Homo sapiens: one gene and its partners. The protein of the gene in region 4 interacts with the protein of the main gene of each other region in a biochemical or structural test. Each region holds a gene or a part of one and is shown on either strand. Other genes may lie near its edges. The genes, in order: CSE1L, CHEK2, S100A2 and KPNA2.

Region 1 (7,464 bases), on a different chromosome or scaffold from region 4:
TGCACGCCTGTAGTCCTAGCTACTCGGGAGGCTGAGGTAGGAGGATAGACTGAGCCCAGGTCAGCCCAGGCAACACAGTGAGATGGTGTCTCCAAAAAAAAAAGGGAGGGAGAAGATAAGAATTCATTTTTATCACCTTTAAATGAGGGGGTGATACTTTTCTTTCTCCACGTAACTATCTTTGGAAATCTCTACCAATACACAATTAAGAAACTTAAAAAAGCATCACAATAAATCAGTTATGGCAGACATCTAAATTTCCAAGTTCTTCTTGTTGAATGAATGGCCAGACCTAAGTCTAGCATCTTCCCACAGGCCCTCAATTACAGGTGGAGATTTCTGGAATAAAAGCTTTGTTTTCCAAAGCCATCTCACAGACATCTGTGACATAAGCTGATCCAAGATGTCTGCCTTTTTCTTAGATATGTCCTCAACACATTAGAGAACCATTCCCGAGGCCTTACATTTGGGAAGAGGGAAAGAGATCCAATGAATGAAAACTATCTGGCACCCACACATGAAGAACATATCCCAACACCTCAACCTACCCTCTGCTTTCTAACCATAGGAATATACCACTTAGAATCAAATCCAAACTCCTTACATTGCCTACAAAGCCTTCTATGATCCGGGTCCTGGATATTTCTCCCTTCTTCATGTAACACTCTAGGAACCTAAGATATTCCTTAAATATTTCAATATTCCAAGCCGGTTCCTGTCCTTGAGCCTTGAGCCTTCTATTCCCTCTACCTGGAATGTTCTGCCCCTCACCTTTTAATGGCTGGTCTCTACCCAAATGTCACCTCCTCAGAAAAGCCTTCTTCACCTGTCACATAATTCTGTCACTATCTGAAATTATCTAATGTTTTTTCTTTCGCCCACGAGAATACATGGTCCTCAAGGGAAGGGACCTTGTCCATTTTTGTTTTTTCACTATATTCCCAGAGATTAAGTGGATGCTCAATAAAGTTATTAAATGAATAAAGAAACAAATTAATTCCAAAACTAGAGCACTGCTCTTGCATCCATCCAATCCTGTCCCAGACCCCAACCAGCAGAAGTAATCAGAAGGGGAGAGAGACTTCCCTTGCACTGATGGTAAGAAGTGAAAGATAAAGGGTTGTAGGAGCGGAGAGACGAGGTCCATTAGGATCCTCTGAAAGCATGTCAAAAAAAAAAAAAAAAAAGAGAGAGACACACACAGAGAAAGGCCAAAGATATGACTATGTGGGCCCAAGGTGAGAAAAAGAGCAATTGGTGGAATCCAAGACTAAAGGGTCCCCTTCTGTGCCTCCAAGGAAGAATAATACTTGTGCATCTACCATGTGGCAAGCACAGGTGGGATGGCACCCACCAGGGAGAGAGAAGTAAGCAAGACAGACAAGGTCCTTGCTCTCAAACAGCTTACATTCTAGCAGTTGAGAAAGATAACAAGTAAGCAATAAGTAAGTGTTAGTAAATGCTATGAAGTAACTAAAACCAGGTGATGTTGATGGAGAGCCATGGGAGAAAGGTCCTAGACAGGTTGATTAGACAGCCTGATCAACATGGTGAAACCCCGTCTCTAATAAAAATACAAAAATTAGCCGGGTGTGGTGGCGTGTAGTCTCAGACCTGTAGTCTCAGCTATTCGGGAGGCTGAGGCAGGAGAATCGCTTGAATCCGGGAGGCGGAGGTTGCAGTGAGTCGAGATCGCGCCACTGCACTCCAGCCTGGGAGGCAGAGCGAGACTCTCTCTCTCAAAAAAAAAAAAAAAAAAAAAAAAAAAAGAAAAGAGAAAAGAAAAAGAAAAAGAAAACAAAAGAAGAGGTTGGTTAGGGGAGGCCTAAGGTGAGGGAAACTTGGGAGAGGCGGCCTGCCTTGCAAAAATGTTGGTACTTCCCCAGCAAACAAAAGGCATGTGCAAATAATTTTAAATCGGAATAACCCTGGAATATGGAAGAAACAGAAAGCCACACTGGCTAAGGAGAAAGATGGGTGGGAGAGATGAATAAACAACCGTCAGCTCCCAGGGAACCTTTGTAAACCACGGTAAATAACTCAGCGCATCCTCAAAGCCACTTTCCGAGGTAGATTCTGTTATTAACCCCATTTTGCAGCTAAGGAAATGGAGGCTCAGTGAGATGAGGTGACCAGCCTCAAGTTACACCCCTAACGAGAGGCTACGTCTGGAATGAACCCAGGCGATCTAATTCCAAAGTCTATGCTCCGAACCACCACAGCACAGCGTTTCTCCCAAAACGAGGGAACCCTCCCCCAACCCGCGTTACAGGGGATTTCTATGTCCCGGGTGTACCGACTAGAATTCTCACAAACAATTCAGCAAAGTGAGATCACGATGCCCGTTTTACAGTCAGGGATACAAGTACAGAGGTTAGAGAAGGGTGAGTTCGGGGGCTTCACTAGAGTTAGGGCAAGGGACGACGCGAGGCAGCCGCAGCTCCACGCGCCCGCAGTCCCCGCCCGGGCAGGCCTCGCCGCCGCACACTCAGCTCGCGCGGCTAGCAGCCACCGTCGCAGAGAATGGACATGCGAGCGCGACCAATAAGGAGCGGCCTTCCCGAGCGGAGAGGCGGCGGCGCAGCCAATCAGCGCCGTGATGGAGAGGAAAGGGCGGGCAATCCGCAGGCTCGCGTTAGGCCGCGCCTCAGTTGCCCTCAGCCCTCACAGGCCCTGGGGTCGCCGCACCTGGGCCAGAGACCTAGGATGCCGCGAGGCGCGGCAAGCGCTCCCTAGGGAAGCCGAAGACCTTGCCTGAGCGCACCACCCGAACCCCGGGCCCACATTCCGCTCTCGCCCAGAGGCGCGGTTCTCACTCCCTAGCGCTCGTTAGTACCGGGAGCGCCTCATCCCTTCCTCAGCTGGGCCCCAAGAGCCACTCTGGTAGGCCGTGCACGCCCCGCGCCTCACCTCGTGGGGATACAGAAACGGAGGAGGGAACCCCAGCCGCGGACCGTAGCTGGCACTACCCGCTCCTGCCGCCGCTCCGCCTCACATTCAAACCCCGGCAAAATGGCGCGACAGCGAGCCTGAGGCCAGAGCGCATGAGCGAGCGGCCCGCTGCAGGGGGCGGGGCCAGGAATGCTCTGGCCCCACCCAAGTTCGAAGGGCCAATCGGGGCCCCGCTCTGTTTCTGCGCTGATCTCACAAGTGACAATGCTCTTTGGCTCTGACCATGCCAGCAGGCTTCACGGTTCTCGTTTTCCAAAGAGGAACACAGATTCAGCGAGCGGCTGCTGGCTTCTGACCCATTTTGATGTCAGGGCTTGGCACGTAGGAGGTGTTCAATGTTGATCGATCCAAGGTCGTGCACATAGGGTCTAAGACGGAAGAGAACTTCCTGCCCCTCTTGGAGCTTCTATTTTAGAGGGAGACACGGCCAGACAGGTCTCGAACTCCTGGCCTCAAGTGATCCGCACACCTTGGCCTCCCAAAATGCTGGGATTCCAGGCGTGAGCCACCGCGCCTGGCCTGGTATGTAAGTTTTGGTACTCTTATTACAGCCCACAAACCATATGGGATCTGGCCCCTGCCAGCCTGCCTGCCCTCATCACCTTCCGCTTCCCTCCTCTCCTCACCCTCACTCAGCTCCGCCACCCCACCTTCTTCCTGTTCCTCTAAGCTCCAAGCTTATTTCCACTTTAGAGCATTTATACTTGCTGTTCCCTGTGCTGGGATGTTCTAGATTCCTGAATGATTGGCTCCTTCTTTACATTTAGGTTCCAGCTCAAATGTCACCTCCACAAAAGAGGCCTATCTGAAATTGCCCACTCACCACCACCCAGCACACAAATTAGGGTTGCCAGGTTTAGCAAATAAAATGCAGGCTGCCCAGGTCAATGTAAATTTTAGAAAAAAATTTATAATTTTCTAGTATAAATACTGTGTAGGACATATTTATACTTAAAAATCATGCATTGCTTATCTGAAATTCACATTGAACTGGGTGCCCAGTGTTTGATCTGGTAAGCCTAGTTCCATGATATCATTATGGTATTTATCACTCTCCAACTAATTGTCTCTTCTTTATTTTGTTCCTCCTTCCGCTTCTCCCCTCCTAAACCCCTGCCCTCCTCCCCATCCATAACCTAAGGGATTCTATACAGCAAGGGCTTTTCTTTTTTTTTTTTTTTTTTAAAGACAGAGTCTTGCTCTGTCGCCCAGGCTGGAGGGCTGGAGTGCAGTGGTGCTGTCACAGCTCACTGCAACCTCTGCCTCCCAGGTTCAAGCAATTTTCCTGACTCAGCCCCCCAAGTTACTGGGACTACAGGTGCCCGCCACCATGCCCCGCTGATTTTTGTATTTTTAGTAGACACGGGGTTTCACCATATTGGCCAGGCTGATCTTGAACTCCTGACCTTGTGATCCGCCAGCCTTGGCCTCCCAAAGTGCTGGGATTACAGGCATGAGCCACCACGCCTGGCCAGGGCTTTTTTTTTTTTTTTTTTTTTCTTTTAAGAGGCAGGGTCTTGCTCTGTCACCCAGGCTGCAGTGCAATGGCACAATCATAGCTCATTGCAACCTCGACCTCCTAGGCTAAAGCAATCCTCCCACCTCAGCCTCCTGAGTAGCTAGGACTACAGGCACCTGCCACCACACCTGGCTAATTTTGAATTTTTTTGTAGAGATGAGCTCTCACTATGTTGCCCAGGCAAACTCCTGGCCTCAAGTGATCCTCCCACCTCCGCCTCCTAAAGCACTGGGATAGGGCTGGGCATGGTGGCTCACGCCGGTAATCCCAGTGATTTGGGAGACCGAGGCAGGCAGATCACCTGAGATTGGGAGTTTGAGACCTGACCAACATGGAGAAACCCCGTCTCTACTAAAAATACAAAATTAGCCGGGTGTGGTGGCGCACGTCTGCAATCCCAGCTACTTGGGAGGCTGAGGCAGGAGAGTCGTTTGAACCCGGGAGGCAGAGGTTGCGGTGAGCTGAGATCTTGCCATTGCACTCCAGCCTGGGCAACAAGAGCGAAACTCCATCTCAAAAAAAAAAAAAGCCCCGGGATTACAGGTGTGAGCCACCACATCTAGCCCCATATTGATGGTATTCACAGCTGTACCCCCAGCACTAGGCACACAGTAGCTGCTTAATAAATGTTTGTTGCATGTTGAATGAAATGCCATATATAAATAAGTGAAGTCCATGGAGAAAGATACATGAGTGAAAGACATTGGTGAGGCCGGGCACGGTGGCTCATGCCTGTAATCCCAGCACTTTGGAAGGCTGAGGCAGGCGGATCATGAGGTCAGGAGATCGAGACCATCCTGGCCAACATGGTAAAACCCTGTCTCTACAAAAATACAAAAATTAGCCAGATGTGGTGGCATGCGCCTGTAGTCCCAGCTACTCAGGAGGCTGAGGCAGGAGAATCGCTTGAACCTGGGAGGCAGAGGCTGCAGTGAGCCGAGATCGAGCCACTGCACTCCAGCCTGGGTGACAGCGAGACTGTGTCTTAAAAAAATAAATAAATAAATAAAATAAAAATAAAAATAAACCATGATGGTCAGAAGACGGTGGAACATTTTAAAAAAAAACAAAGACATTGGTGAAAAAGATGTATTTTTACTATTGCAGCAATAGTACCAGTAATCACCAGTAATCATTTTAATCGTTCTAATCTGCATTTTTTTTTTTTTTTGAGACGGAGTCTCACACTGTTGCCCAAGCTGGAGTGCAGTGGTGCGATCTCGGCTCACTGCAAACTCCACCTCCTGGGTTCACGCCATTTTCCTGCCTCAGCCTCCCGAGCAGCTGGGACTACAGGCGCCCGCCACCATGCCCAGCTAATTTTTTGTATTCTTAGTAGAGACAGGGTTTCACCGTGTTAGCCAGGATGGTCTTGATCTCCTGACCTCATGATCCGCCCGCCTCGGCCTCCCAAAGTGCTGGGATTACAAGCGTGAGCCACCACACCCGGCCCACTAATCTACTTTAATATAATTAACATGTTCCTCTAGTCCTAGGGAGAATGAGCCTGATGACTTTACCATTTTCCACCTCTAAGAGCCAATCGCAAAGGAGGCTGGCTGGCATCTTGTGTCTGTCTAGCATCTCTACCAGTTTCTGTAGAAAACCCTCAAGCTGTGCCAAGACGATCATGTCTGGACACAGCTCTTGGTGTCACGGGGTGTCTCCTCCTACTGCCTATCGCCCTTTGCAGCCACCAGAATAATCATGCAGGTGAGAGCCACAGAAAGGCTGAGTGTCCTTCTCCACTCTGCATGGTTCATGGGTGACAGCTAAAGATTCCCTTGGGAATCCTCCCCATCCCAGCTCCACTACATGCACATACTCTTGGGGCGTGCTACAACTCTTAACAGACTGTGTTGGAAACCAAAGAAAACAATTCATCCACTTCAAGGAGCAGGAGACTAAGTACTCATTCATGTAGTTTCCTTTCTTTCTAAACCCTTATAAAACAATCTGTCTAGGTTGGGCATGGTGGCTCACGCCTGTAATCCCAACACTTTGGGAGGACAGGATGGGTCACCCGAGGTCAGGAGTTCGAGACCAGTCTGGCCAACATTGTGAAACCCCATCTCTACTAAAAATACAAAAATTAGCCGGGTGTGGTGGTGGGTGCCTGTAATCCCAGCTACTTGGGAGGCTGAGGCAGGAGAATCACTTGAACCTGGGAGGTAGAGGTTGCAGTGAGCTGAGGTCGCACCACTGCACTCCAGCCTGGGCGACAAAGCAAGATTCTGTCCCCCCGCGCAAAAACAAAAAAAACCCCAATCTGTCTAATGTAAGGAAAGACATTCTGAAAAGACACATTGTCTATGGTGTGCTCCTTGAGGAAGATAACTTTACATTTTATTTGGATCCAGAAGGGCGTGGACACATCTGGTTATGCTGGGAAAGAACAAGTCTTATGTCTCAATCTCGCTTTTAAAGCCCAACTGAGATGCAGAAGAGTGTTAACAGCTAAACATTGAGAAGTATCTGATTGTTGTTTCTTATCTTTTTTAAAATGGAGGCACTTTAATTTTTTTTTTTTTTTTTGAGATGGAATCTCACTCTGTTGCCCAGGCTGTACAGTACAGTGGCGCGATTTTGGCTTACTACAACCTCCGCCTCCCAGGTTCAAGCAATTCTCCTGCCTCAGCCTCCCAAGTAGCTGGGACTACAGGCGCCCACTACCACACTCAGCTAATTTTTGTATTTTTAGTAGAGATGGTTTCACCATGTTGGCCAGGCTGGTCTTGACCTGACCTCAGGTGATCTGCCCACCTTGGCCTCCCAAAATGCTGGGATTACAGGCGTGAGCCACTGCACCTGGCTTATTTCTGTTTAAATATATGTTTATATGTTATAAAAATCTACACGTTTGAGACTAGCCTGATCAACATGGTGAAACCCCATCTCTACTAAAAATATGAAAATTAGCCGGGCGTGGTACTGTGTGCCTATAATCCCAGCTATTTGGGAGGCTGAGGCAGGAGAATTGCTTGAACCCAGGA
Region 2 (7,316 bases), on a different chromosome or scaffold from region 4:
AGCTTCTGCACAGCCAAGGAAACAATCAACAAAGTGAAGAGACAACCCACAGAATGGGAAAAAACATTTCCAAACTAGCCATCTGACAAGGGATGAATAACCAGAATATATAAGGAGATGAAACTCAACTGCAGAAAGACAAATAATCCAATTTAAGAAATGGGCAAGCCAGGCACGGTGCCTCACATCTGTAATCCCAGCACTTTGGGAGGCCAAGGTGGGTGAATCATCTGAGGTCAGGAGTTCAAGACCAGCCTGGTCAACATGGCAAAACCACATCTCTACTAAAAATACAAAAAATTAGCTGGGCATGGTGGCCCGTGCCTGTAATCCCAGCTACTTGGTAGGCTGAGACACGAGAATCACTTGAACTCAGGAGACGGAGACGGAGGTTGCAGTGAGCCGAGATCGCACCACTGCACTCGAGGCTAGGTGACAGAGTGAGATTCTGTCTCAAAAAAAAGAAATGGGCAAAAGATCCGAAAAGACATTTCTCGAAAGAAGACATACAAATGGCCAACAGGTATATTAAAAAAATGCTCAACATCACTGATCACTGGAGAAATATAAATCAAAACTACAGTGAGGCCCGGGTGCAGTGGCTCATGCCTGTAATCCCAGCACTTTGGGAGGCGGAGGCGGGCAGATCACTTGGGGTCAGGAGTTTGAGACCAGCCTGGCCAACATGGTGAAACCTGTCTCCACTAAAAATATGAAAATTAGCTGGGCATGGTGGCAGGCGTCTATAATCCCAGCTACTTGGGAGGCTGAGGCAGGAGAATCTCTTGAACCCGGGAGGCAGAGGAGGCAGTGAGCCAAAATCGCGCCACTGCATTCCAGCCTGGGCGACAGAGTAAGACTCTGTCTCAAACAAACAAACAAACAAAAAAACCCACAATGAGATACCATCTCACCCAAGTTAAAATGGTTTGTATAAAAGATAGGCAAAACAGATGCTGGAAAGAATGTGCAGAAAGGGGAACTGTATAGAGTGCTCTTGACATAAGTAATTTTATCTTAGAAAAAGGCTCTATCTTATATTTTAAAAGGCATTATGCCAACAGGGACCAGATGTTTGTCTAATTAATAAAGACTGTACTGGCCATGTACAGTGGCTCACGCCTGTAATCTCAGCACTTTGGGAGGCCAAGGCGGGCGGATCACAAGGTCAGGAGATGGAGACCATCCTGGTCGACATGGTGAAACCCCAACTCTACTAAAAATACGAAACTTAGCTGGGCATGGTGGCGCGTGCCTGTAGTCCCAGCTACTCGGGAGGCTGAGGCAGGCGAATCGCTTGAACCAGGGAGTCGGAGGTTGCAGTGAGCCGAGATCGCACCACTGCACTCCAGCCTGGTGACAAAGCGAGACTCTGTCTCAAAAAAAACACTGTACTAAACCAGATAAGGATATAAATATGTACACGCTTTTGTTATTAGTCCTCACAAGAAAATTCTTTGGTCATAAGAGCAGGACTTTATTAGGTCAAAATGGCTGTCCTAACAGACACCATCTTGCTGTCACTCATGATTAACACCCAGTATCCGCCATCAAAGGCTCTGCCCGCATCAAAAACTCTTCCTTACAAGACACTGACACCCCAGATAAAGCCAAAACACTCTCTTTGTCCACATTGCTCTCCTTGGACTGGTTTGATAACCACTTTCCCTATCCCCTTTTCTCCGAATGTTAAATGTTACTTTAATGTAAGATTTTTAATCTATAACATTTACATATTAAATAAATATACTATTGTGTACGGTTTACAATACTGACTGACTTGTGGAATGGCTTGAGCCTGTGTGCCCATGGCTCTGACCACCAAGTAAACAGGGAGTACTACGGAAAATTGCTTCCTTGGGAACTCCATATAGCTCGTGGCTTTTACAATTAAAATAAAACATCAATAAGTCTGATCTTGTGGAAAGACACAAATGTGCATGGACCTGGTTATGTCTGACCTTGCACTGTTCACATACACCACTGGTGGGAATGCAAATTAGTATAGCCACTATAGAGAAGAGTATTGTGATTCCTCAAAAAATTGAAAATAGGCCGGGCGCGGTGGCTCACACCTGTAATCCCAGCACTTTGGGAGGCCAAGGCAGGTGGATCACCTGAGGTCAGGAGTTCGGGATCAGCCTGGCCAACATGGTGAAACCTCGTCTCTACTAAAAATACTAGCCGGGCATGGTGGCGGGTACCTATAATCCCAGATACTTAGGAGGCTGAGGCAGGAGAATCGCTTGAACCCAGGAGGCAGAAGTTGCAGTGAGCCCAGATCGCGCCACTGCACTCCAGCCTGGCAACAGAGAGAGACTCCGTCTCAAAAAAAAAAAAAAAAAAAAAAAAGGTACAGATGGTAATCATATATGTATACTTTATATCAAAAATAAATAATTTTTTTTAAAAATTCCAGAGGTCTTTCAAGTGAAACACAATATTTTTTTCAAGCAGAAAACCTAAGTCCGAAGGAGGACTGATGCCCTCCTACCCACTTCTGGCCACCCTATCCCATACATTTACTTAGGGACTTATTTAGGGACACGCAGAACATCCTCCTACACAGCTCAGTGCGTTTCCAGTCCCTGCAGCGCCCAGTAGCTAAGACTGGCTTCTCTATAAGTATTTTATAGATTGAACCTAAAGAATGGCAACGATTTCTAACATCTATAGAATTTTTACGAAGTCACTTCGCTCTGATATTGAAGAATACAACGCTGTTCTTCTTATCCTGTATGTTCAGGCCTGTTTCAGCTTGCAAGTAATACGGGAAGTGAACTTCACCTCGAGGATGATCTACTGAAAAGGAAGAGAGTCGCCCACACACTCCCCCTTCAGCTCAAAACTACAGACAAAGCGAAGCTCAGGAGACTCCGTTCGCACAAAACGCTTAAGATGGGATTCGAACCACCAAACACCCAACAGAAGTTCCCCATATGACTCACCGCGTGAGCCCACCTGGAGCCGCACACTCTCCGCAGCCTCAGCCAGCAGAGTGGCGCTAAACCTGCAGATACAAACTCCACCCTCAGCCAATCAAAACCCCCTCCCCTGCCGCCGGACCAATGAGGAGCAGCAGATGTGGCCGTCAGGCGCCGCCTCAATGCCTCCTGGGAGTTGTAGTTTAGAAGGGAGAGCGGAACTTAGAACCCGGGTTCCCCTCGGGTGATCCCGCCCCCTCGACTCCCCAGCCAATCAGCAACATTAGTCTGGTTAGACGCTCTCTTTGCTTTTCCCCACGAGTGACCACGGCTAGATAGGCCGCCGGCCAGATGTGGCGGGGGAGAGCCGGGGCTTTGCTCCGGGTGTGGGGGTTTTGGCCGACAGGGGTTCCCAGAAGGAGACCGCTAAGCTGCGATGCTGCGTCGCAGGCGGGAAGCAATTATCCCCGCTGTTGGAACTGCGGCGGCCCATGGGGCCCCGGGCGGGAGGACAGGTTCTTCTGCCCACAGTGCCGAGCGCTGCAGGCACCTGACCCCACTCGAGACTACTTCAGCCTTATGGACTGGTACGAGCGACGGTTTCGGGAAACGGGCCCGGGCGAGAGACACGTCGAGGTCTGGCCTGCGAGAGGGGAGGACGGATCTGGCTGGCGGAAGAGAAGGCGGGACTGATGGGGGGGCGGAGGTCTAGAGAGCAGGCGTGAGAGAAGTGTCTTGATTTCTCAGGAGGAAATTGAGAGGCGGGGACTGAGGGAAGCAACGTTGAGGTGTGGAGAAGGGAGACGAACGGGACTGGAGGGGCGGGCGCTGAAGTTAGAGGAAATAGGGGGGCCGAGGCTAGAGGGGAGGGAGATTTGAGGGGCGGTACCTACGGGAAAGGGAAGGAGAAGTCGAGGGGCGGAACTTGAGGAAAGGGTACTTGAGGGGCAGGGCCTGGGAGACTGGAAGACTTGAATGAATAGGGTGAGTAAGGTTTAAAGTTGGGTTGATGTATTTAAGAAAGGACTGCAGAAGTGTGATCCGAGATTAGGGAGTAAAGCATGAAAAGCTTAATATTGTGGGCGAGGCCTGAGGGAAAAGTGAGAATTGGAGGGAGAGGGTCCAATAAATGGTTTTTCCCCCTGAGACTGAGGTTCTTGGAGAGACGGGGCAGTGTGGATAGAGCTGAACTGGTAAGGAAATAGGACAGACTCTGGGAGTAGAATGTGAAAGGGGCTGAATTAAAATAAACCGGGAGAGACAGGGATGAAGGGACCTGGGCCGTGGAAAAGTTAGGGTGGTATTAAAGAAAACATGATTCAGTCACACTTGTTCAAGCACCAGAAAGACTTTCTTCAAGACCATCTTGTAGAGGGGCCACTGCAATAGGGTCTTGCAGTTGGGGAGAGAGATTGGTCTCAACTCCAAAAAGGGCATGGGCAGAAGGAAATTTGTAGCCAAGGAGCAGAGTAAACGGGATTCTGGCTAAGCCGACCTAACGGGATTCTTGCTGAAGACAGGCCAGGCTGCTTAGACACCACCTGGGGGATAGTAGAGGATGAAGAATCTGATCAGAGATCTAGGATGATCAAAAATATGAGGATCGAGGATTCTAGCTAAACTGACTTGGCAAGATTATTTGCCAAAACTGTATTTTACAAGAAAGCATACATCTGGGCCTAGGAGAAGGTTCAGAAATCTGACTAAAGTTTGGCCAGGCAAAGAATCTTTGTCTGTGTAATTTAGGAATGTCCCTTTTCCTTAACTATGGGATCTTCCCCACCAGTCACTGAACATGTATGAGGGGCTACAGTAACGCTGATCTTTAAGTTCCTCAGGCATCCCCATCTTGCTCCCACCTCGAGGTCCTTGCTCTTGCAATTCTACCTGGACGTCTCTTTCCTCTGATCTTTGATTACTCATCATCATTCAGGTTTCAGCTGAGTGTCATCTCTTTGTCCACTACATCTGCTACACTCTCTGACTCTGTTCTGTGTCCCTTCATAGGACTTACCACTTTTTGAAATTAACTGCTTATATGTTATTGCATCTTCCCCATAAGAGCAAGAACCAGGCTCATGGTAGATAAACCTTTAAATATTTGTTGTATAAATTTAATCTCCCAATTTCCTTCCAGCAACCGTTCCTTCAGAGTTGATACAGCGAAGCTCCAGCACAGGTACCAGCAACTGCAGCGTCTTGTCCACCCAGATTTCTTCAGCCAGAGGTCTCAGGTAGCTTATTGGCCAACCCCAATAATCCCCAAATATGTGTGCACACTGGGTGGCAGTAGCCTTGTGGTTATGTGATTATCAGGGACTGAGCTGGAAAATCAGCTGTGTCTGCCCCATGGCAGTCTGACCCCAGCCTGTCAGACCCAGAGCTGCCATTCACTCACAGCTTTTGTCTGACTTCCCAGATAACTTAAAACCTATCAGCTGAATATAAAGACACCTCATCCCACACCAGCTCTACTTAACCACTTCCTTAGGTGCCTGCCCATTAGAATATTATAAAACTTTGTGGGCCTGGCACAGTGACTCACGCCTGTAATCCCAACACTTTGGGAGGCCGAGGCAGGCAGATCACTTGAAGTCAGGAGTTCAAGACCAGCCTGGCCAACAGGGTGAAACCCTGTCTCTACTAAAAATATAAAAATTAGCCCAGTGCAGTGACACATGCTTGTAGTCCCAGCTTCTTGGGAGGCTAAGGCAGGAGGATCACTTGAACGTGGGAGGTGGAGGTTGCAGTGAGCTGAGTTCGCGCCACTGCACACTCCAGCCTGGATGACTCAACGTCAAAACAAAAACAAAAACAAAAAAACTTTGTGATTTGGATGGTAATAGTACTATCTTCATCTCCACTAACAGACTGAAAAGGACTTCTCAGAGAAGCATTCGACCCTGGTGAATGATGCCTATAAGACCCTCCTGGCCCCCCTGAGCAGAGGACTGTACCTTGTAAGGTGATTTCCCAACACTTCTGTGTATGACGTCCTGATGCCCATTATGGCGTAGGACAGCCACGTCCCCTTTATTCAGCAGAAGAGTGCTTGAGGTCAGGCATGGTGGCTCACACCTGTAATCCCAGAACTTTCAGAGGCTGAGGTGGTCAGATCACTTCAGCCCAGGAGTTCAAGACCATCCTGGGCAACATGATGACACCCCATTTCTACAAAAAATACAAAAATTAGCTGGGCATGTTGGCATACACCTGTAGTCCCAGCTACTCTGGAAGCTGAAGCAGGAGGATCACTTGAGCCTGAGAGGTCAAGGCTGCAGTGAGCTGTGATTGTACTACTGCACCCTCTCAAAAAAAAAAAAAAAAAGTCCAGGGACCCAATAGTATTTAGCCTCAGAGCACAAGTATAATTTTCTCTGTGAATATTACTTGCCTCAACTGCATTTTTTAAATTGTGATTTTCTAGCTTTTTTCTGTGAATTTCAAGGATTTGATGATGGTAGCTTTTAGTTAAGAGTCATTTTCTGTTTTGTTTTTTTTTCCTCTCCAGAGTATCTTAAGAGGCCAGGCATGGTGGCTCACGCCTGTAATCCCAGCACTTTGGGAGGCCGAGGCGGGTGGATCACGAGGTCAGGAGTTCAAGACCAGCCTGGTCAAGATGGTGAAACCCCGCCTCTACCAAAAATACAAAAAAATTAGCCGGGCATGGTGGCGGGTGCCTGTAATCCCAGCTACTCGGGAGGCTGAGGCAGAGAATTGCTTCCCCAGGAGGCAGAGGTTGCAGTGAGCTGAGATCACACCACTGCACTCCAGCCTGGGCGACAGAGTGAGACTTCATCTCAAAAAAAAAAAAGTATCTTACAATCTAGAAAATTTTATAATTGAATAGAATCTTTACAAACATCTAGTTCAACCTCTGAGTGGAGGAATGACTACCCCAAGATCACACCAAGGTCACATAGTTTTGGGTAGCATGAGTGGAAATCCCATTCCAGCATTTCTGTTTCAGTCCAAGCTTTTGATACCCCTTAGTCTTTCATTATCGGGACAGTTGCAGTTTTCTCTATTAGTGGTATTATTTCCTAATGGATGAGTAGGATTTACATTACTCTGCCCATAGCTTCTTCAACTTATTTTTCTTGCTTTCTACCCCAATAGCTAAAGCTCCATGGAATAGAGATTCCTGAAAGGACAGATTATGAAATGGACAGGCAATTCCTCATAGAAATAATGGAAATCAATGAAAAACTCGCAGAAGCTGAAAGTGAAGCTGCCATGAAAGAGATTGAATCCATTGTCAAAGGTGAAAGATAAAATAGCACTGAATGTATTTCATTGCTGTTATGAACACTTGTCCAAGGATTAGTGAAAAATGAACGTAGAGTATATAATGGCCCGGGTGCAGTGGCTCACGCCTATAATCCCAGCACT
Region 3 (7,394 bases), on a different chromosome or scaffold from region 4:
AAAATAAAAATTGGCCAGGCATGGTGACAATACTCCTGTAGTTCCAACTACTTGGGAGGATTGCTTGAGCCCAGGAGTTCGAGATTACAGTGAGCTATGATCCAGCCTGGGTGACAGAGTGAGATCTTGTCCCCCCACCACAAAAAAAAAAAAAAAAAAAGGAGTCCGGGCACGGTGGCTCACGCCTGTAAGCCCAGCACTTTCAGAGGCCGAGGAGGGCAGATCACCTGAGGTCAGGAGTTCGAGACCAGCCTGACCAATATGATGAAACCCCGTCTCTACTAAAAATACAAAAATCACTTTGGGAAGCCGAGGCAGGTAGATCACGAGGTCAGGAGTTCGAGACCAGCCTGGCCAATATGGTGAAACCCTGTCTCTACTAAAAATACAAAAATTAGCTGGGCGTAGTGGGATGCGCCTGTAGTCCCAGCTACTCAGGAGGCTGAGACAGGAGAATTGCTTGACCCCTGGAGGCAGAGGTTGCAGTGAGCCGAGATCGTGCCATTGCACTCCAGCCTGGGCAACAAGAGGGAAACTCCATCTCAAAAAAAAAAAAAAGAAAAGAAAAGAGAGAGAGAGAACGTGCCAGTGCTGTGTGATCTTGGGACAATCACTTTTCCCTTCTGGGCTCTGGTTTCTCAAGTCTCCAATGACAGGATTAAACAGATGGACTCGGAAGGCCCTCACAGCACATGGTTCTCTGGAATGCTGCAGGAAACAGCCATTAATTAAGCACTCCCACTCGGGCCTCATTTCCACTCCAGTGGAGCCATGAAGCTAAAGTGGGGAGGGGGCTGGGCCCCACCCTGGCACCTGCATCGACAGGCACCCGGAACTGGGGGAGAGATTTAACCTGCACCCCCACACTCACACCAGGACCTCCCCCACAGGCCTGTGCCACTCACCCCCACAAAGCTGGGCAGCTCCTTGTGCAGAAGTTCCTTCATTTCCCCCTTACTCAGCTTGAACTTGTCGCCCTCTTGGCAGGAGTACTTGTGGAAGGTAGTGACCAGCACAGCCAGCGCCTGCTCCAGAGAACTGCACATCATGGATCTGTGGCTGCAGAGGTGCCAGGTGATGGGTACACTGCTGAGGCTCTTGGGGCCTTAGCTCAGCCTGTAGGATCCACTTCTGCCCTATGCCCCCAAGCCACCTCACAAAACCCCTCTCTGAATGGGAAGGCAGGGGCTGCATCTCCCCCTCAGACTGTGGTTCCCTGAGGCCGGAGGCGATACCTCCATCTCACCCTGAGGGCAGACGCTAAAGCTTCCCTTGTGTCTGGGAGTCACCAAGCCTCCTCTGATGGCACTTGGGACACCCCCCTGAGGGCAGGGCTCCCCATTTTAGTGTCTGCCAGAAGGGAAATGACAGGGTGACCAGAGTCCCATTTTGATGGCATCTGCGCAGGCTCTGGGGAGCAGGGCCACATGCACCGGCTGGCAGATGGGGGCTCCTGTGCAGTCTGGCAGGAGCCATGGCTACAGCCTAGGAGCAGGAAGCTCCCTGAAGGAGTCGTTTCCCTCCTTAGACTCGGGACTCCTGAAGCCAGAGGCATCTCTCTCTGCCATCTAACTGGAAGCTCCCTTGGGCAGGAGTGTTTCCTCTCTCAGACTAGGAGCTCCCAGAGGGTGGGGAATGTGTCTCCCCTCACCCTGAAGGCCCCTGAGCCTCTAGGCAGACAGGGGCATGGATAGGGTGGGGGCAACTTAACATTCTCTCCACCAGGAAGGATCCTGTTGGAATTAGAATTAAAGATATGAAATGTTCATTGCCTTGGGATCAGGATGGGACAGACCTCAGCGGCAAGGCCTCTGAGAATACTCAGACCAGCCTGGAAAGGTTAGGCAGGTTTCAGGGTGAGGCCAGAGGAGCTATGCCAGAGGCAGGGCATGCCCTGGGCCCATCATGCCAGCCCTGCCTTCACCGAGGCAGGGGGCAGAGCTTTGCTGCTTGGGGCCATGACCCAGGCAGAGTCTTGAGACCCCTGCCTCTTGCACCTTAGTCCTGCTAGAATCCAGGACTTTGCAAAAAAAAAAAAAAATCTCAGGATTCTTTTTGCAGCAACGCCCACATGCACACCTCCTGCTCCTAGGCCTAGACCCCCAAAGAAGGGCCCCTAGACTGAGATATCCAGGGGAGGGCCTCAGAGCAACCCCTGCACTGAGACCTCACAGAGGAACCTGGAGAAAAACCCTTCAGTCGGCCGGGCGCGGTGGCTTACTCCTGTAATCCCAGCACTTTGGGAGGCCGAGATGGGTGGATCACGAGATCAGGAGATCGAGACCATCCTGGCTAACATGGTGAAACCCCATCTCTACTAAAAATACAAAAAAATTAGCCGGGCATGGTGGTGGGCGCCTGCAGTCCCAGCTACTCGGGAGGCTGAGGCAGGAGAATGGCGTGAACCTGGGAGGGGGAGTTTGCAGTGAGCTGAGATCACACCACTGTACTCCAGCCTGGGCGACAGAGCGAGACTCCATCTCAAAAAAAAAAAAAAAAAAAAAAAACCCTTCAGTCAACACTTCAGCACTTCACAGAGAGTTCTTCCAAGGGGGAAGGCCCAGAGAGGCCCAGGTTGATCCCACCAGGGAAGCTGGAATGAGAGAACTGTGGAGACAAAGACAGAGACCCACGGGGATCCTCCCCACCCTGCCCTCAGCAGGACAGAGGTACTCACCAGACCAGGTGGCAGAGACAGACCCAGGAAGGAGAGCAAGGCAGCCAGGCTCCCAGGGTGAGGATTTATATGTGGGCCCCACTGGCCCCCAACTTGGCATTTTAAGGAAACCAAACCTGCCTCAACCTGATCCCACCAAACCCTGGCCTCTTGCCATTCCCACTCATTCCCTCCCAGCCCCCTCCCTCCCAGAGAGTGCCAGCTCCACCACCAGCTGGGGGAGGGCTCTAGGCCAGGTCAAGGGCAGCCCCTGAGCCCACCCAGGCCACAGTGGGAAGTGGGAGGTGTCGTGGGGACTGGGCATCCTGGACCGGGGTGAGGGGAGGCAACCCCTGCTCTGGGGCCTGGAGACTGGTGCCAGGCCTCATTCTCATGACATGCCTGTGAGTCACAGCCCACTCCTGTGTGAGAGGCTGTGAGCACACGCTGAGACTTCATGGTCCAGTGCTCGTGTACATACATGCGCCCGTGTGTGTGAGAGAGAAGCAACCTGGGGCCACCCTTAGGAAGCTGGGGGCCAGAGGAGGCAGCTGGGGGACATCAGGAGGAGAAGGACAGGACTGACTTCAGGGCATGGATGAAGTGGAGTGACTTTTAATGGCCAGCACCAGAATACCTCTTAATGAGGTAATGAGGTAACTAAGTGTGCTTAGAAATACCTGGGAAGGTCCCTCTGTGTAGGAAGGTGTCTGGAAGGATGGGGAAGCAGTGAGAAATGGGGTTGCTCTACACACAGCCGCAGTTGGGCTGGGCCACAGTCTGTGGGGAGCATAAGGAAGTCCCGAGTAGTTAAAGGCTGAACAGGAAAACTTTGGCCTCCTCTTCTCCAGCTTGAGGGCTGGGTGGGTGGGTAGGGGTACATCCCTACCCAAGGCTGAAAACACCAGCTGGACAGCTTCCCAAGCCAGAATCCAGGCCTGAAGCACAGCCCTCAGCCACAGCCCTCTCTCACTGCCCCCCACACACATGTCCTCCCCAGACCCGGAGAAAGGCAAACACTGTGGCCATTCAGAGCCCAGCCCAAGGGAGGGCTGCCCCCTCCCAGGGCCCCTTCCTCCTTGGCCCTTTGTCTATCCCGGCCCGTCTGGGCATCAGGGCACCGCCCTTCCTGTGGCCCCAGCTCCCCTCCCTGCTCCAGCTGTCGAGTAGCTTCTTCCCCTCCCCCAGCCCCTCTACCTCAGCCCTAAGTGACTCACCCGAGGTTCCAGGCCCAGATGCCCAGGCAGTGACTCAGCGGCACACCCTCCTCCCCCAGGGCCAGGGCAGCAGCAGTCCCAGAGCAGTAGGTGGAAGCCCCAGCCCAGCCTGGCAGGGAAAGCACTGGCACAGAGACCCCAAACAGGCCCTGCCAGGAGGAGCTTTGGATAATGACATGGCAGGAGGATCAGACTGAGAACAGGCTGGTCCCTTCCTAGCGGTCACCGTGTGACTTGGGGGCCAGCCTGAGCAGTGTACATGAAGTCAGGCCTTGGGGCCCCCAGTGTCCTCTTCTACACCTTGGCACAGCCACCGAGTGTCCCTTGCTCCCCTCAGTACTTGAACCCCTCATGCTACTTGTCTTCCCATCGAGGCCTACTTCAAGTAGAACTCGGAATAAAAACCCTTCACACTGAGGGTGAGGGACAAGGGAGCGCAATGCATCGATTTTCACAGCCATTCTTTCCTTTTAACTAAGGGCCTCCACAGGGCCTTCCCTGCTCAGAAACTGCAGTGCATCCCCATGGCTGTCCCTTAAAGCCAGGCGGTATGTTCTCACTCATAAGTGGGAGTTGAACAATGAGAACATATGGACACAGGGAAGGGAACACCACATACCAGGGCCTGTGGGCAGTTGCGGGGAGAAGGATGGGGGCAAGGGGAGGGAGAGCATTAGGACTAATACCTGATGCATGCGGGGCTTAAAACCTAGATGATGGGTTGATAGGTGCAGCAAACCACCATGGCACATGTATACCTATGTAACAAACCACATTCTGCACATGTATGCCAGAACTTAAAGTAAAAATAAAATAAAATTAAATTAAAATTAAAAATTTTTAAAAAGCCTGGCAGTGAGGCGCTCCAGACTCGGCCTGCTGCTGCGTGTCCCTTAAACACACCGGCACATGCAACTAGTGTGGCCAAGACCCTCGGCTTGCGCTGACCCCTCTGTTCAGAACGTGCCCACACATGCCCATGCCCTCTATCCTGCTGAAATCCAACCCCCCCTTCAAAGGCCACTGCAGGGAGCCTTCCCAGGGCCCAACCGGATTCAGTGTCTACCTGTTCTGTCCTGTACAAAGCGCCCCTTTTGCCCTTTTCGTGTGTACTTAGAGAATTCTGATTTTGACTGAATCACCTGTGTACTTGTTTTCTCTCAGCCTCACCCCCACATGGTGAGCTCACCGGTCTTACTCATTTCTGCATGAGGTAAGGGTCTCGCCCACACCAGGTGCCAACCAGTGCTTACGGCTACCACATGGCAACAGGGGTCACTGGAGGAGTGCTTAGGAGCAAGGGAGTCCTTCTCACCCCGTGAAATCACACCACTGACTATGCTACGAAATAATCACCTCTCCTCTGGATCCCAAGAGTGGAACCGAGACAACGGGTCGGAAAAGAGCTTCAGAGAGCTACAAATCCCTGAGGAGTGACAGCAGGAAACTGCGGCTCCCAGGACCCAGTGAGGGAGTTGAGCAAACCCCCCAGCGGGCAGAGACGGAGACAGGCAGGCAGACGAAGAAGACAAAGAGTCAGTCAGATGGAAAAGCCAGGGAGAAAAACAGAGACAGCAGCAGAGCCGCGGGTCACTAGGGTCAGCTCCTGAAGGCCTGTCCTTAATCAGGTGTCTCTGTCTCAGGAACTGAGGCTGCGACTGCGCCCATCAAATGGCCATATACCTGAGACTGGTGATAATCGTATTCATTTGCCACTAACTTGCTGCGTAACCTTGGGCAACTCCCTCCCCCACGGCAGGGCAGGAGAGTTGTACGGAATGGCCCCTAGAGTCCGATCCCAATCCCACTCTCACATTCTCCAGCTGTCTACAAAGGCAGAGTAGTCAAGACACAAGCAGGCCCTGCGGACATCCAAAGCAGTGACTCTGCCCCGGCCCAGCCTCAGGAAGCTGGGTCCTCACATTCCGTCCACCCCATCTCCGGGCTCCAGGTGCCAGAAATTTTCCACCAGCGGCCCCGCGGGATTTTGCCCAGCTGCTTCGTGCCCTCTGGTGGCTAAGGCGTGTCATTGCAGTGCCGGCCTCCTGTCATCCTCCCTTTCTTGTCCGCCAGACCCTCTGGCGCCCTGCTTACGACTCAAACAGGAGACAGTGCTGATTCATTTCCAAGCGGCCTTCCTACACCCACACCTGCTTCACATAGATGAGGTTTCCCGGACAGTCCCTGCCCAGAAGCCCAGGTGGATGTCTGAGACGGCAGCCAGATACCTGGAAGCCATTTTAAAAGCCTAGGGATATGGGTACTCGGGAGATAGGAGGCGGAAAGACCACTTGAGCCTAGGAGTTTGAGGCTGCAGTGAGCCATGATCGTGCCACTGCACTCCAGCCTGGACGACAGAGCAAGACCCTGTCTCAATCAATCAATCAATGCAAGCCTAGAGATAAGGGCAGGAGAAAACCAGGGGACAGAAGTGAGGGATTGGCCACTGCCAAGTTCTGCCCACCCACCCCCTTTCCCCAGGCCGTTCAGGGGAAAGAGAAATGGCCTCATTGTGGGGGCCACAGGTTTAGTTTAAGTCCTGACATTGCCTCTGGCTTACTGTGTGACTGTCGACCTTGGTTGAGTGGTGCCACGAACCTGAGCTTAAACGTTTTCAGCAGAAGGACCCCCTTTATTATGCCCCGCCCCACAAAATAAGTTCTGAGGTATTCTGTCTTAGCAAAATGCATTAAATAATTTATTTCCCCTGTTGTACTAATTGGATCCATAAGTGTCTCCCGGCAGCATGACCAGCATGCGAGGACCCACGTTATCACATTGGGTTCAGGTCATCCTGGATTTGTCACTCACAATGGGCGTGTGCATATCCTTTGCTGGGGGGTGCAGACTGAAATTTTGAAGCACTCGCTGTGCGTCAGGTGCTCTCCGTACATTACCCCATTTAATTCACACAACAATCCCAGGAGTTGGAATAAGATGACCCCACTTCACAGAGGAGAACACTGAGACTCAAAGTCTGCCAAATTCACACAATTAGTAAGGGGTGGGGAGGCATGACGAACACAGGTGGTCACAACGTTAAACCTTTCCTAGAAGCTCCAATTATTCCCCGATAACCCTGAGAGCCCTAACATTTCATTTCCATTCAGACCAGCCTCAGTCTCTCTGCCCATCCTCTCTCCACCCCACACTCAGCCTATCTGTCTCATTTCTCAACCTCAGCAGGCGCCAGAAGCCCATCTTCTCCCCATCTCTGATTCTGGCATCTTTTCCTCTTGCCTTCAAATGCCCTGTGGACTGGATTCTTTTTAATTTTTGTTTACTTACTTATTTGAGACATAGACTCACTGTCGCCAAGGCTGGAGTACAGTGGCACCATCACAGCTCACTGCAGCCTCATGTGATCCTCCCACATTAACCTCCTCAGTAACTGGGGCTATAGGTGTGCGCCACTGTGCGCATCTTTTTGCATCTTTTGTGGTGATGGAGTTTTGCCATCTTGCCCAGACGGGTCTTGAACTCTTGAGCTCAAGCAATCCTCCTGCCTCGGCCTCCCAAAG
Region 4 (6,985 bases):
CATGCCCAGCTGGAGTATGGATTTATTTTATTTTTATTTTTTTCCTTGAGACGGAGTTTCACTCTTGTTGCACAGGCTGGAGTGCAATGGCATGATCTTGGCTCACTGCAACCTCCACCTCCCAGGTTCAAGCAATTTGGAGTATGGATTTTAAGGAGCGAAAACACAGGTCTAAAGCAGTACTTCAGGAAAAATTTCAGGAAAATAGTATATGGCATAAAGAAGGATATGATAAATTAGGAGGCTACTGTAAATATTTCAGAAGGAAAGTCCTGAACAAAGCTGGTGACAAATACAAAAACATAGAGAATACCAAAAAAGGCAGAAATAAACCAAAAACGGGAAGGGCCTGGTGGCTCACGCTTGTAATCCCAGCACTTCTGGAGACCAAGGCAGGCATATCACGAGGTCATGAGTTCAAGACTAGCCTGGCCAACATGGTGAAACCCCGCCTCTACTAAAAATACAAAAACAGGCCGGGCAGTGGCTCACGCCTGTAATCCCAGCACTTTGGGAGGCTGAGGCGGGTGGATCACGAGGTCAGGAGATCGAGACCATCCTGGCTAACATGTTGAAACACCGTCTCTACTAAAAATACAAAAAATTAGCCAGACAGGGTGCGGGCGCCTGTAGTCCCAGCTACTTAGGAGGCTGAGGCAGGAGAATGGCGTGAACCCGGGAGATGGAGCTTGCAGTGAGCGGAGATCGCACCACTGCACGCTAGCCTGGGCGACAGAGCAAAACTCTGTCTCAAAGAAACAAAAACAAAAAAATACAAAAACTAGCCAAGCGTGGTGATGCGCACCCATAATCCCAGCTACTCAGGAGGCTGTGGCAGGAGAATTGCTTGAACCCATGAGGCAGAGGTTGCAGTGAGCCGATTGTGCTGCTGCACTCCAGCCTGAGCAACAGAGCAAGACTCCATCTCGGGGGAAAAAAAAAAAAAAGAAGAAATAAACCAGAAACTGGCTGGCTCTGGACACACTGGTCAGGCCAAGGTACCCAGCTAGTAGCTAGAAATGCAGGGAAGTCTGAAGGAAGGTCAGAGCTAAAGGAAGATCCTAAATCAGCTTCAGTGGATTACAGAAGGCAGGAAAGAAGACAATTACTAATTGCAAACAGAGAAAAAGATGTTCACAGATAGTTAAAACCGTTAAGACTAGAAATGTTAAGTTTACTTGAATTTCTAAGAAAAGTCCCTACTGATTTTCTGGATTTCACGTAACTCATAAACTAAAATACATTTTTTACCTGGTTGTTGCGGTTTTCCTGCAGCGGAGAAGTAGCATCATCAGGAAATGAGCTTACATTTCTCCTCTTCAGCATCTGGTCATCCTTCTTAGCTTTCCTCAGCTCCACATTGACCTCTATTCTGCGACGCCTCATTTCCTTGAGAAAAGATAACATGCCGTTTCACCTATCACACCAGTTTTTGTTGCTAAGTGAGGGCATTTTTTTTTTAAATACCTCAGTTTTCACCCCTTTCCAAATGTCTTCCCATTTAAATACCACCACAGGAAAGCAACAGAAGGTACTCACTGTACTGTCTTTTCCCTTGTTCTTGAATCTGTGAAGACGGGCAGCTGGTGTATTAGCATTCTCGTTGGTGGACATGGTTATGAGACAAAGGGAGAAAGCTAAAAGATGGGGGAAGAGAAAAATATTTCCTTTATCATTTTCCTTTGTCAATAATAGTACCAAATAAGAACTGAATTATCAAGCATCTACTGAATCCACACCTGTATACTAGAGGGGGGATCATCATGTTTTCGGCACTATGAAATAGCTTTACCCAAAGGGGAAGTGTCCCCCTTCCCTCTAAAGGGCTGAGACTTCCTGGAGAGGGCTCTCCATCAGAAATAGAATGCAAGCTATATAAATTGAAACTTCCTAGTAGCCATATTTTTAAAAAGGAGAAAAGAAACAAGTGAAACTAATTTTAATAATGTATTTTACTTAACCCAACATATCCAAATAGTATTTCAACGTGTTATCAATATATAAAATAACTGACATCTTCTACATTCTTTTTCCATACTCCATCTTTGAAATCTTTTGTGTACTTTAAGCTTACAGCGTATTTCAATTTGGACTAGCCACATGTATCCACCGTTTCTGACAGCCTAGTTCGATACTCCAGAGTCCCTAATAGTTAATTCAAGACAAAGTAGGGGAACCAAGTCAACTTACAGCTAAAAATTATGTGCCAGGGCAATAAATTCAGATCCTCAGGAGGCTCTCCCTATTTTACTGTCTTTACTTGGCCAAAATAGGTGCAGACTCGAAAATTAAATAAAAATTTGCTTCATCATTACATTATGGTCAACATTAAAAATGCAGTGCCGCATCTCGCATATTTGATTTGCATTTCCAGAGACTAGGAGTGAATGCGCTTAATTAGGATGACATCAGCTGTGCGTCATTCAGAAGATGACAAAAGTCAAAGCCCTCCTTACAATTTGCTATCTTTGCTTTCATTACGCTCGCCTACGACTTGGTGGCAGAGCCACCCCCGGGGCCTAGGTGTCAGAGACGGTGCTCCCAACTGCCACCCCCAGCCCCTGCCCCCACGCCGGGGAAGATGCAACGAGAAAGGAGGAGGCGAAACCAGGGCCGCCACAAGTCCTCCCGGGACATTCGCCCTCAAGCCTGGCTCGCTCCGATTCTCCCGGCCGCGACGCGTTAAGGCCTCCGCTGCCGTTTGCAGAGCGTCGGCGCCCTAAACCCGCAGACCCCGCGAAACTCAGCCGCCTGGTCAATGAACGTCGCCCCCGAGGCCTAGTCAACGCGGGAGGCAGAGCCAGGCTCGGCGTGGACCCGGGGCCTCCCTCCCCCAACCCAAAAGGCGAACGCCGCCCACGGGCAAGCCGTTAGCGCTCGGGCCGGGCCGCCGCCTGAGTCTGTACCTGCGAAGCGGGCCTGGGCTTCCACGGGAGGCGATGCGGGGGGAATCAGCGGCTGTAGGGCGACTGCGTTCAAAGGGTCCACCTCGACTCAGCTCAAAGACCGTGTGGCTCGTGCAGCCGGCCGGCGCGATTTAAATTTCCCGGTGACTCCGCATTCCGATTGGCTGGTTCGAGCCTAAGCTGTGTGCCCATTGGTGGATTTGAAAAACACGTTGGGAGGGGAGGGAGTCATAGGGCTTGGGGGCGAGTGGGAGGGGGGAAAGAAAAAAAAAAAAAGAGGATGGCATCGCGAGATGAGGGAGCGGCCGGGCGGTGAGGGAGCGGCCGGGCGGTGAGGGAGCGGCCGGGCGGTGAGGGAGCGGCCGGGCGGTGAGGGAGCGGCCGGGCGGTCCCTGAGCGCCTGGCGGGGCGGAGCGGGAGGACTCCAGATCCCGTCAAGCAGCGCGAAGGGGCGGTTCCCTGGGCCGTTCGTGTTTCCATAGGGTTGAAGCGTGCATGGTCCTTGGGCGTTTTCCTGGGCGACAGCCTTAAACAAATACCACAAAATGATTCTCTAAGTCATTATTTTAAAAACTTTGTTGTTGATCTTCATGAAAATAAAAAAATTCTAATTAGTAAATAAGTAATCTTTATAGAAAAACATATTGCTTTGCATTTTTTTCCTATTATGACACCCAAAGTACTCGGCGGGGGTTTCTGGCTACTATGGGAGGGAAGATTTGTGTTATATTTTTTAGTTTAGTTTTTTTTTAATTGCATCATAAAAGACTGTATAGAAGCCGCAAATATGGAAACAAAAGGTTTCTTATGCCTGTTTCTCCAAAAACTCAAGTTTTTTATTTTTAAATAATTTCAAATGCAGCAGAATTGCAAATCTTTATCCAGATTTGCCAAATCTTAACATTTTGCCACATTTGCTATTGCTTTCTCTATACATATATATGTATACATATGCACGCGTGTACATATGTGTGATTTTAATATGTTACTTTAAGAGAAAGTTTCAGAATCATGTCCTTTTTCCTCTGTTTCACGGTGTCTCTCCTAAGAAAAGACATTCTCTTATATAACCACACTGCAGTCATCAAATTCAGAAAAACTGAAATTTCATGCTGTTGTTTAGTATGTAGTGTGTGTTCAAGTTTTTTCAATTGTTATAGTAACATTCTATGCTCATTACACATTTCTGAATTTTGCATTTTTTGCCATATGCTCAAACGAACAAACAAAACAAAGATGGTCAACAGAGCATCAGGATTCTGGGCCATTTTTGTTTCTGCAATTTTTTTGTGTTCTAAAAGATTACATTTTAGAAAAGTTTTCATGGTTTATTTCTTACTATAAATAAATTCAAACAGCAAGTTTGTCCATTTTTGCAGGCATTAATGCCAGCCTCATTCATCGTAAAGCCAGAGTTCATAAAGGGTTGGACCTACTCTTAATCAGCATAATCCCATCCCCCTAAATGCAAGAATGTGGAAGGAATTCACCCCTAAACCAATCACTGTGTGGCATTCTCTCAGCTACTGAGAATGGTTCAGGGGCAGGCACATGACCTAAATTCATCCAGTTGGACAGCCTCTGCCTTTTGTTTACTGGTTGGAGGTAGGAAAGCAGCCTCTGTTCTTCTGAACTAAGGGATGTGAGTCCTAGAAATCTGAATAAGAAAACTGTAGGGAAACCTTGAGAGGTCTGACCTGCTCTATCTCTGAAGGTTTGCAGGTAGGAGATCCGATACACATTTCTTTTGTATTGTCAAGTTGAGTTTCTTCTCTTTTTTTTTTTCTTTTTTTTCTTTTCTTTGAGACAGGGTCTAGCTCTGTCGCCCAGGCTGGAGTGGAGTGGCACGATCTCAGCTCACTGCGACCTCTGCCTCCTGGGCTGAAGCCATCCTCCCACCTCAGCCTCCCAAATAGCTGGGACTATAGGTACACACCACCACGTCCAGCTAATTTTTGCATTTTTTGTAAAGACAGGGTTTCACTATTTTGCCCAAGCTGGTCTCGAAGTCCTGAGCTCAAGCAATCCACCCACCTCAGCCTCCCAAAGTGCTGGAATTATAGGCCTGACCACCATACCAAGCCAAGTTGAGTTTCTTTTGCTTGAAAATACTGACTACTATGTGCCCAGAAGTGTTCTGAGTGTTTACCATATATTAATACACTTGATCTTCACAACTGTGAGGTAGTACTGTTATTTGCTCTATTTCACAAAAGAGAGCACTGAATCACAAGTGTTTATGTAACTTGTTCCAGGGTCACACAGCCAGTAAATGGCAAAGACAGGATTCAGCCATAAGCAGTCTGGTTCCAGGATCTGTGTTCTGAACCACTATTCTGTACTTGCACCTAAAAACAACCTGAAACAGAAGTATAATGCCCAAAATTGCCTTTGAAAGATACGATATCGTCGGGCACAGTGGCTCACACCTGTAATCCTAGCACTTTGGGAGGCTGAGGTGGGCAGACCACCTGAGGTCAGGAGTTCAAGACCAGCCTGGCCAACAAAGGGAAACCCTGTCTCTACTAAAACATACAAAAAATTAGCTGGGCGTGGTGGCAAGCACCTGTAACCCCAGCTACTTGGGAGGCTGAGGCAGGAGAATTGCTTGAATCTGGGAGGCAGAGGTTGCAGTGAGCCGAGATCACACCATTGCACTCCAGCCTGGACAACAAGAGCGAAACTCCATTTCAAAAAAAAAGACTAGCCTGTCCAACATGGCAAAACCCTGTCTCTACTAAAAAATATAAAAAATTAGGCAGGTGTGGTAACACACACCTGTGGTCCCAGCTACTCAGGAGGCTAAGATACAAGCATCACTTACACCTGGGAGGTAGAGGTTGCAGTAAGCTGAGATGGTGCCACTGCACTACAGCCCAGGCGACAATGCAAGACGCCGTCTCAAAAAAAAAAAAAAAAGTCCTATCATTTATGACCAAGTTTTAGCTGATGTGTTAGTCCACTAGCATAGTCCGCTTAGGTTACCATAACAAAGTACTACAGGCTGGGAGGCTTAGATAACAAACATTTATTTTTCTCACATTTCTGGATCACGAAATCTGAAATAAGGGTGCCAGAGTGGTCAGTTTCCAGGAAGGGCCCCCCTCTTTGGCGTCCAGATGACCATCGCCTAATTGTGTGCTAGCATGATCTCTTCATTTTAGCACAGAGAAGGGAGAGTGAAAGCTCTCTGGTGTCTCTTCTTTTTTTTTTTTTTTTAGATGGAGTCTCGCCCTGTCACCCAGGCTGGAGTGCAATGGCGCGATCTCAGCTCACTGCAACCTCTGCTTCCTGGTTTCAAGTGATTTTCCTGCCTCAGCCTCCCAAGTAACTGGGATTACAAGTGCATGCCACCACACCTGGCTCATTTTTGTATTTTTAGTAGAGATGGGGTTTCACCATGTTGGCCAGGCTGGTCTTGAACTCCTGACCTCATGATCCACCCACCTCAGCCTCCCAAAGTGCTTGGATTACAGGCATGAGCCACTGCGCCCGGCCTGATGGCTCTTTTTATAAGGACACTAATCTCATCATGAGGGCCCCACCCTCATGAATTCATCTCAACCTCCCAGAGGCCCCATTTCCAAATACTATCATACTGGGAGTTAGGTTTTCAACATATGAATTTTTGAGGGGGATGCAAACATTCAGTTCTTAATATCCATTCACCAGCCTGGGCAACATAGCGAGATGCCCTCCTCCAAACCACCATCTCTACAAAAATTAAAAAAAAAAAAAAAATTAGCAGAGGCTGGGAGCAGTGGCTAACGCCTGTAATCCCAACACTTTGGGAGGCCGAGGCAGGTGGGTCACTTGAGGTCAGGAGTTCAAGACCAGCCCAGCCAACATGGTAAAACCCTGTCTCTACTGAAAATACAAAAATTAGCCAAGCGCGGTGGCTCGTGCCTGTAGTCCCAGCTACTCGGGAGGCTGAGGCACAAGAATCGCTCGAACGCAGGGGCAGAGGTTGCAGTGAGCTGAGATTGTGCCACTGCACTCCAGCTTGAGCAACAGAGTGACACTCTGTCTAAAAAAATAAATAAATAAAAATAAAAAATTAGCCAAGCATGTTGGTATAT

What was found.
Region 1: the proteins of KPNA2 (region 4) and CSE1L form a complex in vitro, tested with the Homo sapiens proteins (2 studies listed by BioGRID).
Region 2: the proteins of KPNA2 (region 4) and CHEK2 form a complex in vitro, tested with the Homo sapiens proteins (one study listed by BioGRID).
Region 3: the proteins of KPNA2 (region 4) and S100A2 form a complex in vitro, tested with the Homo sapiens proteins (one study listed by IntAct).

Annotation. Positions count from the first base shown.
Region 1 is NC_000020.11:49,041,870-49,049,333, reverse strand, and holds the start of CSE1L (exportin-2), read right to left. Parts: upstream 3,023-7,464; 5' UTR 2,911-3,022; intron 1-2,910. UniProt on the Homo sapiens protein: Export receptor for importin-alpha. Mediates importin-alpha re-export from the nucleus to the cytoplasm after import substrates (cargos) have been released into the nucleoplasm.
Region 2 is NC_000022.11:28,738,821-28,746,136, forward strand, and holds the start of CHEK2 (serine/threonine-protein kinase Chk2), read right to left. Parts: upstream 3,001-7,316; 5' UTR 2,949-3,000; intron 7-2,948; exon of another isoform or gene 1-6. Other genes in the region: iron-sulfur cluster co-chaperone protein HscB isoform 1 precursor, read left to right, coding at 3,276-3,511, 5,062-5,158, 5,795-5,884, 7,044-7,188. UniProt on the Homo sapiens protein: Serine/threonine-protein kinase which is required for checkpoint-mediated cell cycle arrest, activation of DNA repair and apoptosis in response to the presence of DNA double-strand breaks.
Region 3 is NC_000001.11:153,562,829-153,570,222, forward strand, and holds the start of S100A2 (protein S100-A2), read right to left. Parts: upstream 3,017-7,394; 5' UTR 2,678-3,016; intron 1,060-2,677; 5' UTR 1,050-1,059; coding exon 906-1,049; intron 709-905; coding exon of another isoform or gene 587-708; intron 1-586. UniProt on the Homo sapiens protein: May function as calcium sensor and modulator, contributing to cellular calcium signaling. May function by interacting with other proteins, such as TPR-containing proteins, and indirectly play a role in many physiological processes.
Region 4 is NC_000017.11:68,031,762-68,038,746, reverse strand, and holds the start of KPNA2 (importin subunit alpha-1), read right to left. Parts: upstream 3,013-6,985; 5' UTR 2,907-3,012; exon of another isoform or gene 2,191-2,906; intron 1,638-2,190; 5' UTR 1,615-1,637; coding exon 1,540-1,614; intron 1,390-1,539; coding exon 1,252-1,389; intron 1-1,251.